2 linked regions of the Homo sapiens genome follow. The protein of the gene in region 1 interacts with the protein of each later gene in a biochemical or structural test. Each region holds a gene or a part of one and is shown in the gene's direction. Other genes may lie near its edges.

Region 1 (3,749 bases):
ACTGGAGTTCCAGGTCCATTGTGTTCTGGGCACTGCCTGAATTTTACTGTGCAAGCTTCAGGCCCTGGGAAGGCCTCTCTGCACTGGCTTGAGTCAGAATAATATTGTTGAGACTTTAGCCCCAGCCAAGCACGGTAGTTAGAATAATTTCCTAAAATATATCTGTTAACAATAAGCCTATTTATTCTCTTAAAAATAAAGCTGCCTTATGATTTCCTTTTTTTTTTTTTCGTTTCTTTTTTCTTTTCCTTTTTTTTTTGAGACAGAGTCTCACTCTGTCTCCCAGGCTGGAGTACAACCTCTGCCTCCCAGGTTCAAGCAATTCTCGTGCCTCAGCCTCCCAAGTAGCTGTGATTACAGGCACATGCCATCACACCTGGCTAATTTTTGTATTTTTAGTAGAGACAGGGTTTCACCATGTTGTCCAGGCTGGTCTCGAACTCCTGGCCTCAAGTGATCTGCCCACCTTGGCCTCCCAACCTTATGATTTTCATATATTAATATTTCTAACCTGACCACAGTCACTTTTTTGCTTTTTTGTTTGAGAACAGGAAACATATTTTTAAAAGTCATATTTAAGAGCATGTAGAATAAAATGAAATTGAATAGAAATGGGTCATTCGACAGCAGAACTCCAGCTTTGTGCTTGGAATTCCTGTTTCAACACTTACCAACAAGCCATTCAACCTTTCTGCCTCAGTTTCCTCATCTGTAAAGTGGAAATAACATCAGCATCTCACAGCACTTCAGGGGCCAAAGAAATGGTAGGGAATTCCATTCTAGGTCTGGACCAGCACATTTCTTGGCAGAAGAGTAGCAAAAGCACTTAGTTGAAAGCTCTTTTGGGAGCGAAGAGCGCTAAACAAATAGCTGTAGGGTTGTTAAGACCGAGGCTGATAGAGTTGTTATCACTCCCCGTGCTGCTTAGTGACACATTATTTGACTCAGGGGTTGTAAGATAGAATTACTGTCTGTGTTGAGGTATGACAGGAATCCCTCCCACTCAGATTTCCAGAGGTCTCTATAGACCTTCTGTCTATAGCTTGTAGACTAAACCTTGGAATTCTTGGGACCCAGATCCAGGAACTCCCAGAATCATGTACTTTTGAGCATTTGCAGAGGCCAAGGTTCCCCACAGCTCTGTGGGACCCCAAGACCCGGTTCCCTTTGCTCAGCAGTCACCTTTGTGTTTGCCCTGTGCTGCAGCGAAATGCTCTGCCCGGGTAGTGCCTGGAGGTGGGGACCCAGCCGCTCCTGCGAGGCCTGAAGGGCTGACTCCTGCACAGCGATGATGCGGCAGCTGAAGATCGGGTATTGCCACACTGAACTCGCTCACCAAGATGTCGTGGGATTAATGCCGAATGCTTACGGAGACAGTTGTTTCTCCAGAGGAGGCATGCCTTGATTCAGCACTGTGGCATGATGGCCTTCTCTTATCCTTTCTGCTTTAAAAACTTGTGTTTATTGGAGACGAAGGAGAAACAAGGTCCTTCCCAGTTCCAGCATCAACCTCGCCTCCAGGAAGTCTTCCCTGAGCCCTTATTCATGCTGGACAAAATGTCGTTAGCACCCCATGTCATGCCAACATTGTCAGTGCAGCTGGCTCCTCTCCACGAGCTTCTTGAGAGCGGAAGCTGTGGACTAGGGCAGGGACTGGTGCACGGCAGGACCTGAAGTGAACTCCCCAGTCCTTGACACACATCAGCCTGCTTATTTCTCAGCCTTATTGGACAGGCTTGTCCTCTGCCTTCATGTTCTTAAAGGGAAAAACTGAGGCACAGAGAATTTAGTCACTTACCCAGAGTGACACAGCCAGGGGGTTTAAGCCCAGGTCTTTCTCATTCTTGAGCCTGCAATTCTGTCAGTAGGCCATCCAGCTCCCCTTGGGAGGGCTATTTGGTTCATGCCTCTACCATCAGAGTCTATCTCCTCAGTGAACTCAGACCTTGTTTGACATGGCTCACTCTGGGATCCATCCCACTGAAGTGAAGGTGGGCGCCTGCTCTGCAGCTGAGTGTGTGGTTAAGTCCATCAGACATTCTCAGCATGCTCTCATGCACTGACTAAAACCATGATGTCATCAGGAAGTCCTCCCCACCTCACTCTCCACTTCCCTCTCCACTGCTTATTCACTGTCTGGCTATGAAAGTTAAGGCCTTTGCTGGGTAGAATGGAAGAGACCAAGGCCAGGCAGTCCAAAGCAGATATTCAGGGTTATGTTTTAAGGGAGGGTCATCCCAGCAACCTACTTGGAGTTGCATTTCAATGTCATGGAAGCCAAAGTTATGATACTTGGCTTTTCTAGTCACAAAAGTGTCTGTATCCTCTTCATGATCTTAGCTGCTTTTTTTCATACTTACAGACATAATTCACCAGGCACGGTGGCTCATGCCTGTAATCCCAGCACTTTGGGAGGCCAAGGCAGGTGGATCACTTGAGCTCAGGAGTTCAGGACCAGCCTGGGAAACATGGTGAAACTCTGTCTCTACCAAAAATTTTTTAAAAATTAGCCAGGCGTGATATTGTGCACCTGTGGGCCCAGCTACTCAGGAGGCTGAGGTGGGAGGATTGCTTGAGCCTCAGAGGCAGAGGTCACAGTAAGCAGAGATAGTGCCACTCCAGTCTGGGTGACAGAATGAGACCCTGTCAAAAAAAGAAAGAGGAAAGAGGAGAGAAAGAAAGAAAGAAAGAAAGAGAGAGAGAGAGAGAGAGGGAGGGAGGGGGAGGAGGGAGGGAGGGAAGGAAGGAGAAAGGAGGAGGGGGAGGGAAGGAAAGAAGGAAGGAAGAAGAGAGGAGGAGGAAGGAGAAGAGAGGAGGGCGGGGAGGGAGGGAAGGAAGGAAGGCAGGAAGGAAGGAAGAAAGGAAGGAGAATTCGCTTTGAGACTTCACAGCGTAGGGGGACAGGCTGGGAAAAAAATACAGATTTTTAAACTAGTGTAAAACATTTCTCCAGCCTTGCCCTAATGCAAAGCCAAATCATCAAAATGATGCATACCTGGGCCAAATCACCCTGATCCTCTTTCATATAATTGCCTTTCTGTAATTATGATTTAACACATCATGTACCTGAGTATGTAGGGCACTTTTTTTTTGTTTGTTTTGTTTTGTTTTGAGACAGAGTCTTGCTCTGTTGCCCAGGCTGGAGTGCAATGGTGCAATCTTGGCTCACCGCAACCCCCACCTCCTGGATTCAAGTGATTTTCCTGCCTCAGCCTCACGAGTAGCTGGGATTACAGGCATGCGCCACCACGCCTGGCTAATTTTTGTATTTTTAGTAAAGATAGGGTTTCGCCATGTTGGCCAGGCTGGTCTCAAACTCCTGACCTCATGTGATCCACCTGCCTCGGCCTCCCAAAGTGCTGAAATTACAGGTGTGAGCCACCGTGCCTGGCCATATTTTAATATTTTAAAAATAAATACTGTTATTAAGCATATTATATTTCATTGATTAATACCCCTCTAATGTAAAAACTCCTTGATCCACAGATCAGGGCCAAGAAATACTTTCTTTCATGTTGGACTGTTGGGCTTCCTACCACTAGACAAATTGGAGCTCCCATGACCAACTTTCTTTCCTTCTGGTTTGCATCTTTACTGTGGTTTGCACATTTGTTGTTTTTGGTCTTAATATCCTGTGCTTTATGGAGAGCTGTCTCAGATCACTGGGCCAGAGCTCTGTGTGGGCAGGAACCATGTATTTGTATTTCACAGTTGCATGCTTAGAACCTAGCATAGGGCTGATCCCTAGA
Region 2 (3,749 bases), on another chromosome or scaffold:
ATTGACCTTTCGTTTCCTTTTGTCTCATTAACTGATTTTTAAAACATCAGTAAGTCAGTGATTGGTTCCACAACTCTCATGCCCCTCTGCCCCCAAATGCAAACAGTATTTTTTTTTTTTTTTGAGACGGAGTCTCGCTCTGTTGCCCAGGCTGAAGTGCAGTGGCGCGATCTCTGCTCACTGCAAGCTCCGCCCCCCGGGTTCATGCCATTCTCCAGCCTCAGCCTCCTGAGTAGCTGGGACTACAGGTGCCCACCACCACGCCCGGCTGATGTTTCTGTATTTTTAGTAGAGACGGGGTTTCACAGTGTTCGCCAGGATGGTCTCGATCTCCTGACCTCATGATCCGCCCGCCTCGGTCTGCAAACAGTATTTTTAAGACTTACTGGCAAATAGCATCTTACCAGGCGAGATCTCTCCATGTGTTCTGTTTCATCAAAGAAATTAAATCAATAGTAAAATGAAGCAAGTACTTAACAAGGAAAATAATGCTGGTAATAGTAATAGCTAATGCTAATTGAGCATGCACTATGTGCCAGACTCGGTGCTCAGAACTTAACATAGCATTCTCTCAGTACTTACACAACTCCATGAAGTTTCTATGAGAAGGCTTATACTTGTTAAGTAATTCGTCCAAGGTCACCCAGTGAGGATATGGTACAGTTGGAATTGTATCTAGGCAGTTCTGACCCCAAGAGCCCAAGGCGCCCCTGGTCCTATCTCATAGTTGATGGGCCCATTGCCCTGGATCACAGACTTTCCACTACTCTTATAATGCCTTTTCTAGAACTCTCCTAATGTTTTAAACTTCCAGTCCTCCCTACAGTCTTTCTAAATAGATAATCTTCTTTTCTACTTGACTGAGCTCGCTGATGTCTAAAAAGAGCTCCCTGCCTTCTGTTTTGTCCCCCTCTCCCTACGCCATCTCATCTCTTTTCTCTTATTTCAGTGGAAAAGGTTCCCTTCCTTTTTCCCCCTTTCATTTCTTAGAGATAAACCTAGATTAATGGTTTTTACTAGGGAGAGATTTTGTAATCTAGGAAGCATTTGGCAATGTCTGGAGACTTTGATTGTGACTCTGGAGGGAGGATGCTACTGGAATGTAGTGCGTAGAAGCCGGGAATGCTGCTAAACATCCTGCAGTGTACAGGAGTAAGCCCCTCTAAACAGAGTTATGTGTAAATTGTATAAAATAGTGCTGAGCTTGACAAACTCTGATCTAGATGATGTCTCTCTTCTCTTTCTATTATGTCCCTTCTCCTTAGTCCTAGTCTAACCCCCAGACACCTTCACTGTCTTCTCCCTTGCTACTCACATTATGGTCCACAGACCAGCAGCATTCACATCCCCTAGGATTTAGACATGCAGAAAGTTGAGTGTGCTAGAGCCAGCTTGCTCTGCCTCTCCAGCTGATTTTGTACATCTCTTTCCAGCTCTGTGTTCAATGACCTCGTGTTGATAACTGTGCCAAGGTGGGAATATTTATACCAAGGAAACAAGCATACACTGCCAATCAGCATACCACTGCCTGTACCCCCACTCTAGACCTATTCAATCAGTTTCTGCCTTTTGACAAGATTCTTGGGTGATTCATTTGCATATTACATTTTGAATTTGCATTTTCCATTTTACCGTGCACTTGTCCTCTATCTTGAAACCAAATAACAACAACAAAAGTGTCTATTGCCCAGTCCAGCTGTTGTCTCCACCTTCCTCCTCTTGTTTGCTTTTGGAACAAAGTTTCTAACCCCACCTGTTTCATTTCTAAAACATTTTTCCAGTGACAATGTATTCAGACTCAATATACAAAACTTGGAAAAGACAGACTTGAGCAAGACTAACTCTTAGCTGACAGGAGATTGAGGAAGGTTGGTTCCCAGATTCTGCTACAGAGCTTAAGGTGGCAATAACAGCTTCTGCAAAAGCCAAATAATGAGATGGCCGTGTGGACCAGTCTGGGCTCCAGCAAATGGCTGATTGTTCAGAGGCCTGCAGAGGGACTGACTAGGCAGCAGCAGGTTAGGTTGAAAGGCAGTGAGTGGTTTTATGTAATCAGAATCTGCTCAGCAGCCTACTTTGCCAAGGCAGGATCTCTCCCTCTGTCACCCAGACTGGGGTGCAGCGATGTGATTATAGCTCACTTTGGCCTTGACCTCCTAGGCTCAAGCGATCCTCCCACCTCAGCCTCCTGAGTAGCTGGGACCACAGGCGTGCATCACCGCACTTGGCTGTTTTTTTAATTTTTTATAGAGACGAGGTCTTGCTATGTTGCCCAGGCTGGTCTTGAACTCCTGGGCTCAAGCAGTCCTCCTGCCTTGGCCTCCCAAAGTGTTGGGATTACAGGCATGAGCCACCACACCTGGCCCCCTCATACTTTTATTATTTTATGCTTTTATGATCCCTCATTACCACTTTTTTGCTGTTACTTTTTTCTTGTTTTGTTTTTTGAGACGGAGTTTCGCTCTTGTTGCCCAGGGTGGAGTGCATTGGCACGATCTTGGCTCACTGCATCCTCCGCCTCCTGGGTTCAAGTGATTCTCCTGCCTCAGCCTCCCGAGTGGCTGGGATTACAGGCATGCACCACCATGCCCAGCTAATTTTGTATTTTTAGTAGAGACAGGGTTTCTCCATGTTTGTCAGGTTGGTCTTGAACTCCTGACCCCAGGTGATCTGCCCACCTCAGCCTCCCAAAGTGCTGGGATTACAGGCGTGAACACCTGGCTCCAAATCTACATTTCTAATCCTGAGTTGCAAATGACTTCTATACTCTGTTTCCCAGTGCTTTTTGAACAGGTCTGCTTGAATATCAACCTCCTTGGCTATAAACGTTTGCTTCATACTTATTTTCCCAGGGTTGTTATACTAGGCATGGGAATGTACACTTGTATTACTCGTGTCTGCCATATGCTATGTACCACCCTAAGCACTTTTCCATACATTTTTATTTACAAAAACCCAGCAAGGTGTGAACTATTACCCTATTACTGATGAGGAAACTGAGATGTCTTGTTTGTTTTTTGAGATAGGGTTTCACTCTGTCACCCAAGCTGGAGTGTGGTGACACCGTCAAGGCTCACTGCAGCCTTGACCACCCAGACCCAAGCAATCCTCAGACACTTGAGTAGCTGGGACCACAGGTATGCACCACCACACCTGGCTACTTTTGTTTTATTTTATTTTTTGAGACGGACCGCAGTCTGTTGCCCAGGATGGAGTACAGTGGCGTGAGATCAGCTCACTGTAACCCCCGCCTTCCGGGTTCTATTGATTCTTCTGCCTCTGCCTCCCAAGTAGCTGGGATTACAGGCACATGCCACCACGCCTAATTTTTGTATTTTTAGTAGAGACGGGGTTTCACCATGTTGGCCAGGCTGGTCTTGAACACCTGACCTCCGGTGATCCGTCTGCCTTGGCCTCCCAAAGTGCTGGGATTATAGGCGTGAGCCACCGAACCCAGCCTGTGGTTAATTTTAAAAGTTTTTTTAGCAATGGGGTCTCTCTGTGTTGCCCAGGCTGGTCTCAAACTTATGAACCAAGTCATCCTGCCTCAGCCTCCAAAAGTGCTGGGATTACAGGCATGAGCCACCGTGCCTGACCTCAGATGTTAGTATGCCTTATAAGGGCCTCATATGAGATTTATTTTATTTATTCCTTTTCTTTCTTTTGTCTTTTTTTTTTTTTTTTGAGACATGGTCTTACTCTGTCACCTAGGCTGGAGTAGTGCAGTGGCTCTATCATGGCTCACTGCA

The links. The genes of interacting proteins can lie anywhere in the genome.
Region 2: of the proteins of NSMCE2 (region 1) and USP28, one has a biochemical effect on the other in vitro, tested with the Homo sapiens proteins (one study listed by BioGRID).

Annotation. Positions count from the first base shown.
Region 1 is NC_000008.11:125,360,851-125,364,599, forward strand, and holds part of NSMCE2 (E3 SUMO-protein ligase NSE2), read left to right. Parts: intron 1-1,206; coding exon of another isoform or gene 1,207-1,267; exon of another isoform or gene 1,268-2,704; intron 2,705-3,749. UniProt on the Homo sapiens protein: E3 SUMO-protein ligase component of the SMC5-SMC6 complex, a complex involved in DNA double-strand break repair by homologous recombination. Is not be required for the stability of the complex.
Region 2 is NC_000011.10:113,868,861-113,872,609, reverse strand, and holds part of USP28 (ubiquitin carboxyl-terminal hydrolase 28), read left to right. Parts: intron 1-3,749. UniProt on the Homo sapiens protein: Deubiquitinase involved in DNA damage response checkpoint and MYC proto-oncogene stability. Involved in DNA damage induced apoptosis by specifically deubiquitinating proteins of the DNA damage pathway such as CLSPN.